Linked DNA regions of Homo sapiens. The protein of the gene in region 1 purifies or fractionates together with the protein of each later gene. This does not show direct contact. Each region holds a gene or a part of one and is shown on either strand. Other genes may lie near its edges.

Region 1 (3,491 bases):
TTGACCCGGTGGTCATATGGTATGCACATTATGATATGTTAAAAAATATATATGTATGTGTGTACATATCTGTTGTGGACATGCATACATATGTTTCATGTACTTTGTCCATATTCCACAATAAGAAAATATACAAATGACCAGTAAATATGAAAAGACATTCAATCTCACTAGTAATTAGAAAAATAAAATAACCATGATCAGCTATCATGATTTGCTGAAAATGTAAAAGACTGATAATATCCCTCTTTGCTGAGGTTGCAAAGAAATAGGCATTCTCATATGCTGTCAAAGGAAAGTAAATTAATAACTCTTTTTGAAGAACAATGTGGCAATATGTATAAAAACATAAAGCTTGTCTTAAAAGTTTTCAATTGCAATTCCAAATATCTATCCTAATGAAATTCACATGCACTAAAGATATGTGTACAAAGATGTCTGCCATTCACTACAGCATTGTTTGCAGTAGTGAAAAAAATGAATAAATATCAATAAGGGAAGATTTATGAAAAGTATTATAACCCATACAATGAAATACTATGCAGCCATTAAAAATAAAACTTTATAAACTGACATGGAAAGATATCCAAAACACATTAAGTGAACAAAAGCAAGACACAGAATAACACACACATAACATAATCCTGTTTCTAAAATATAAATATGTACATATATTTCTATAGAGTTATGAAAAACAGACTACATATTCATGCTGTAACCTGTTAGCAGTGATTACCTCTGGGCCAGGAAGTGGTGGAGGTAGAAGGAGGGTAAGCGGGACACTTTCCCATCTCACTCTAGATACATACATAGGATTCTTTTGTAATCACATATCCATGGACTACTTATATATTTCTAACAAGTGGTAGTAGCAAAACAACTGTATTATTATTTGTTCCACTCCCATGAGACCAATCTAATACATTTGAAAATAACTTGCTTTCAAAGCTAATTCTTTTGTTCCTGGAGGGCCTCCAGGGAGCCTACAGTTGCAGTCACAGGGCTGTCAGCCATCAATCGAGGAGCACTGTGCAGGATACTAAGTAACTTGGTCTGTCTCCAGGCTCGCCTCTTGAAAATATTTGCATACATTCTCATATCCCAGCTTACTGGCAGTAGCAATAATGTCTTCCCAGAGCACTTTGGTAAGGTAAATAAATTCTGATACTGCACATCAAATCACATCCATATCAAAGTGTAGATGTGGCTGTCAAGATCTATGTTTAGATCCAAATTAGTAATCACGCCCTTGATGAGTGACTTTTAGAACAGTTTGCATTTGGATTCCAAAGTAAGAACCTAGACCCCACTAAATCACCATATAGAGCTTTTCTTCTCTTTCTTCTTCCCTCCCTTCACTCTGCGCTAGCCCTTTCTAAAACTAATTTTTCTGTTTTCTATAAAGGTGGAAGAAAGGGCGAACCCGATCATGAGTTATTTGCAATCAGTAGTCAATCAGAACAAAAAGTATTATCAGTATATTTACAAAGAAAAATCCAACTACATGTATACATTTTGGTGTGCATTTTATTTTTGACTGGAATCATATCCATATGAAGGGAAATTGTGAAAGTATCCTTTACTCTTTTGAAAGCTTGGCCTTTGCCTTACTGTGTCAAAGGAAAGCAAAACTAAGCCAGTAATGATGGAGATGTCCCTGTTTCCATATGCACACTGACAGGCGAGGAGCTGCCTAGGAAATGCTTTTTGATTGATGAACAGAGGAGGGTCTACACACATTAAATACAAATGGAAACACATCAGCACACACAAGTCATTAGCCTGGTCCTCTGGCATCCACTGGCATGCATCTTTCCAAAGTATCACTTATTCAGTGGTAGCAGCACTATGTCTCGTTATGCCTTTTATCAGCAAATACCTTTTTATTCCAGAATGGAAAACAAACTAGGAATTAAATACATCCAATATTGATGCTTTATTTCCATAAGTCACCAATAAGAGAATGAATTTAATTTTAATACATTTATTTTTGTGTGATTCTTAATAAAACACTTTCAAAACATTCTGTACATTTCAAGCCACTCAGAACCGCATTACATTTCTACAAATGTGATTTGTTGGGATGAGGTGCCAAGATGTCTCTGTACAAAGATGTACAATATGTACAATCACTGTAAGTGCAAGCTGTGCAAAGCAGAGTCTAGAACACTAATTCATGCCAAGGCTTACAAAAACATTTCAACACATAAGACTAAAGCTTGAAACAGCGTTGTGGTTTTTTCCCTGGGCAAATGATTATTTTATAAACAAGTATATGTATATGTCATACAGAAAGAAGAGTTTGACTCCTCAGCTCAGTCAGTACCATGCAGCTGACTGGATACATTACAGGGCTGCTCTCCTAGGCCTCTTTCTTCAAGGCGCCATTTTGCCACACTCAACAGTTGTCTCATCACTGAGTGGCTGCCACTGCTGCCTTTGGCTGAACCACAGCAACACTAGGAGACTTAAATTTCGGGAGATAAAGGCCAAATTTGTTTTCGATGCCTGCAAACGTGGCTGTGGCGAGTCTGTATCCACCGATGTGATCAGGGTTGGCAGGAGGAAGGTCTGCAATGCGTGACTTAGGTGTTGGTTCTGAACCAGCGGGTTTGCTGTTGACAGAAAAAAAGCCAATGGTTAGCATGCTCAAGGTGGATGAGCGCAGCTTACAGCTGGACATTTTCGGTCTGACCCATGTGCCACAAAGAAGAATGTTTCTCTCAACCATTTCCATGGCATCTGTGCTGCATGACTAGAAACCACAGTCATGATTTATAGCTGCTTTGACAGCAACTTATCTACATATTTGATTTACAAGAGAAATGGCCTTATTTCCAATGCTTGCATACATATATAAACAAATCCATAGGAAAAAAGTCAGAAGAAAAGACACTCAAATATGAAGACTCTCTGGGTAGTAAGATTATGGATGATTTTTTTCTTTTTTCTTCTTGTAAAGATGGGGTCTTGCTATGTTGCCAAAGCTGGTTTCGAACTTCTGGTCTAAGGAATCCTTCTGCCTTGGCCTCCCAGAGCACTGGGAGGTGTGAGCCACCACACCCAGGCTGGTTTTTTTCTTTTATGCTTTATGGTTTTCCAAATTTTCTGCACTTAGCACATATGAAAGTAATTTTTAAAGTATATATTTTTCTTTTGACATAACTTTAGAAGTTAACTTTTTATGTAGTAGACTCATAAAGATTATCAATTAAATTATTTAAAGAGAGATAGGCCGGGCATGGTGGCTCACGCCTGTAATCCCAGAACTTTGGGAGGCCGAGGCAGGCGGATCATGAGGTCAGGAGATCAAGGCTATCCTGGCTAACACGGTGAGACCCCGTCTCTACTAAAAATATTAAAAAAAAAAAAAATTAGCCAGGCGCGGTGGTGGGCGCCCTTAGTCCCAGCTTCTCAGGAGGCTGAGGCAGGAGAATCACTTGAACCTGGGAGGTGGAGGTTGCAGTGAGCCGAGATCGTACCACTGCACT
Region 2 (3,651 bases), on another chromosome or scaffold:
CAAACTGTTCATTACCTTGTCCTAGACAATCCCCAGCTCCTGAACGCACAGCCTTCAGCCTGGCTGGGCTCCCGCAGGGCATTTCCCCAGCGTAAACCACACCCTGATACCCCCTAACCCAAAGGGATCCCAGCAAGCTCTGCGCATCCCAACTGGAAGGCCCACTCACTGTGGATGAAGCTTGTAGAGTGTCCCGTCCACTCCCACAGTCACATTCAGACGGTCCAGTCCTCTGTTCTCGCGGATCTTATCCACAACCGCAGCCATGCCTGCGCCACACAGCTGTGCGGCCCTCCTGGACACCACCCCGCACACTGTCTTGACGAGGATACTGTCATCGCAGGTGCTATTCAGACCTAGCTGCTGGAGGATAGCCCGGACCTGGAGCAGTGCTAATCGGTCACTGTGGGGGACAAGAGCCAGAGGGCTGGATGAAGCAGGACCCACAAGAGCAGCCTGGAGACCACGTCCAAAGGACGCCCCCCGCCCCCAATCACTGTACTCATCCACAGACAGAGTCAAGGGCAAGTGTTACATGTTAAACTGTGGAGAATTTGGCAAATCTAGCAAAATAAAAATTGGAAAATCTAAACCATTCACTATCTCAACATCTAGGAAAATGCTATTAACATTTTAATATATTTCCTTCCAGTTTATTTTTCCTAGCTGGTATGCTTCTCATGATATGCAAAATGGGATTATCCTTGATATGTGATTTTCTTTCTCTTTCCTGTTTCATGCATTGAGCAATTTCCCACAGCCTTATCTGAGAACAGGATTGGAAACAGCTGCTGCAGTATTCCCTCTAGGGATGCACCATGATTTCTTTAGCCAGCTTGGAGAAATTCAAGTTAATTGCAATTTTCTGCTATTATAAAGAAACATTTTGATAAGGTTTGTTTATAAATCTTTGTGTGCAATTCTGATGTTTTTCCTTAGGATAAATTTCTGGGTCAACGAGCTTTTGCTACACATTGCCAGATGCCTTACAGAAAATTGTATCCATTTACTCTTCAGCAGAGTATTTGGCCACACTTATCCTCACTGGAAAAGAGCATTTTTTTACAACTTTTGACAGTTTTATAAGAAGGCATCACAAGACTGTAGTTCAATTTATATTATTCTCTATTAGTGAGGATGATCTCTTTTTTTTCCATTTGTTTTTTGGCCATATAAACTACTTCTTACGTCTCAAGACTTTTCTCCTGATATATTTGTCTTATTTATATTAAATTGAAAGAGACGATAACTGGGATGGTACAATGAAGACCAGCCAGGCTTCTTGGAGGACTTACCATGTAACATATATTTTACATACATTACCTTACTTACTCCTCAAACAACCAATGAATGTATGATTATTCCCATTTTAAAGATAAGGCAACTGAGGCTGGGAGAAATTGAGTATTGCAAAGCACACAGCCGGTGGAGAAGAGCAGGTGTAGACCAGACCTGCCAAAGCCCACCATGCCCTGCTAGGCGTCTTGTCATACACAGTACAAATGTCTTCCTCAGTTTACCGTTGCCTTTTAAGTTTGATTACTTTTTTTTTTTACTTACAGACACTATGTAGCTATATTTGGCCATTTTTCTTTATGATTTCTTTCTTTGCTATTATGCTTGAAAAGACTTTCCATACCACTTCATACCCATTAGGATGGCTATTCTCAACTCAGAAAATAACAAGTGTTGGCGAGGATGTGGAGAAACTAGAACTTTCACGGGCTGCTGGTGGGAATGTAAAATGTTACAGCCACTGTGGAAAACAACATGGTGGTTCCACAAACAACTGAACAGGGAATTACCATATGATCCCGCAAGTCCACTTGGGGTGCGTACACACACACACACAAACTGAAAGGAGATACTGGTCACCCGTGTTCACAGCAGCATTTGTCACAATATCCAAAAGGTGGAAGCAAGCCAAGTGTCCATGGATGGATGAATGAATAAACAAAATGCAGTGTGTGCATGCAATGGAATATCACTCAGCCTTAAAAATAAGGAAATTATGGCCGGGCGTGGTGGCTCATGCCTGTAATCCCAGCACTCTGGGAGGCCAAGGTGGGCAGATTACCTGAGGTCGGGAGTTTGAGACCACCCTGATCAACATGGGGAAACCCCATCTCTACTAAAAATACAAAATTAGCCGGGCGTGCATGGTGACGCACGCCTGTAATCCCAGCTACTCAGGAGGCTGAGGCAGGAGAATCGCTTGAACCCAGGAGGCAGAGGTTATGGCGAGCCAAGTTTGCACCATTGCACCCCAGCCTGGCCAACAAGAGTGAAACTCCGTCTCAAAAAATAAAAATAAAAAAATAAGGAAATTCTAACACATGCCACAATACGGATGAACCTTAAGACATTATGCTAAGTGAATTAAGCCAGTCACAAAGGACAAATGCTGTATGATTCTATTTATATGAAGTATCCAGAGTTGTCAAATCCATAGAGACAGAGAGTAGAATGGTGGTTGCTGGGGTGGGGGGAGGGAGGAATGTGGAGTTAGTGTTTGCTGCGTACAGAGTTTCAGCTGAGAAGATGAAAAGAGTTCCGGAAATGGATGGTGGTGATAGCTGTGCGACTATGTGAATGTACTTAATGTCACCGAACTGTATACTTAAAAACCATTTTGCCTGGGTAAGAGCAGTGTATAGGCTTGTTAGGTTTTTTTTTGTTTAAGGTTTAATATTTTTTTTCTTTTCTTTCTCTTTTTTTTTTTTTTTTGAGACAGAGTCTGTCTCTGTCGCCCAGGATGGAGTGCAGTGGTGCAACCTCAGCTCATTGCAACCTCCGCCACCGGGCTCAAGCCATCCTCCCACCTCAGCCTCCCAAATAGCTGGGACCACAGGAATGTGCCACCACGCCCGGCTAGTTTTTGCACTTTTTGTAGAAATGGGGTCTTGCCATGTTAACCAGGCTGGTCTCGAACACCTGAACTCAAGTGATTCACCTGCTTTGGCCTCCTAAAGTGTTGAGATTACAGGCATGAGCCACCGTGCCCAGCCTACACAGAGCCTACGTTAGGTTATTATGACCATTCTAAGAAGAACACAGTATTTGCACAATTGCTTTTGTTTTTTCTGACCCTTTTTTCCTCCTTCTCACACAGCGTGCCTTAGAAGACAGCAAAGGCCAGGAAGAAATGTACCCTGGACAGGAGAAAAGTAGAAAGAAGGTGGAACAACTTGCTGAGGGGCATCAGCTCCTGGGTGGCCTGGCACTGAACCCCAGGCTGCCTTTCAGATAAATCCAGGTGGGCCCTATGCACCCCCAATACAAGTATGTGTAGTGCATCTTTACCATCTGAAATGGAATCCATATGGCCCTCTTACACACATAATTTCAAATAAATCAATATAATGCCCCAACATAAAGGATGGATAAAAGGAAAGTAAGTAATTTACTTATTTATTGAGATGCAGTCTCGCTCTGTTGCCAGGCCAGGCTGGAGTGCAGTGGCGCGATCTCAGCTCACTGCAACCTCCACCTCCTGGGTTCAAGTGAGTCTCCTGCCTCAGCCTCCCAAGTAGCTGGGATTACAGGCATATGCCACCACACCCAGCTAATTTTTTGTATTTTTAGTAGAGATCGGGTTTCACCATGTTAGCCAGGATGGTCTCAAATCTCCTGACCTCATGATCCGCCTGC

Evidence for each region.
Region 2: the proteins of SLC25A12 (region 1) and HK1 fractionate together in Homo sapiens (co-fractionation; one large-scale study listed by BioGRID). This does not show direct contact.

The regions. Positions count from the first base shown.
Region 1 is NC_000002.12:171,782,861-171,786,351, forward strand, and holds the end of SLC25A12 (electrogenic aspartate/glutamate antiporter SLC25A12, mitochondrial), read right to left. Parts: intron 2,616-3,491; coding exon 2,414-2,615; 3' UTR 545-2,413; downstream 1-544. UniProt on the Homo sapiens protein: Mitochondrial electrogenic aspartate/glutamate antiporter that favors efflux of aspartate and entry of glutamate and proton within the mitochondria as part of the malate-aspartate shuttle.
Region 2 is NC_000010.11:69,395,347-69,398,997, reverse strand, and holds part of HK1 (hexokinase-1), read right to left. Parts: intron 404-3,651; coding exon 170-403; intron 1-169. UniProt on the Homo sapiens protein: Catalyzes the phosphorylation of various hexoses, such as D-glucose, D-glucosamine, D-fructose, D-mannose and 2-deoxy-D-glucose, to hexose 6-phosphate (D-glucose 6-phosphate, D-glucosamine 6-phosphate, D-fructose 6-phosphate, D-mannose 6-phosphate and 2-deoxy-D-glucose 6-phosphate, respectively).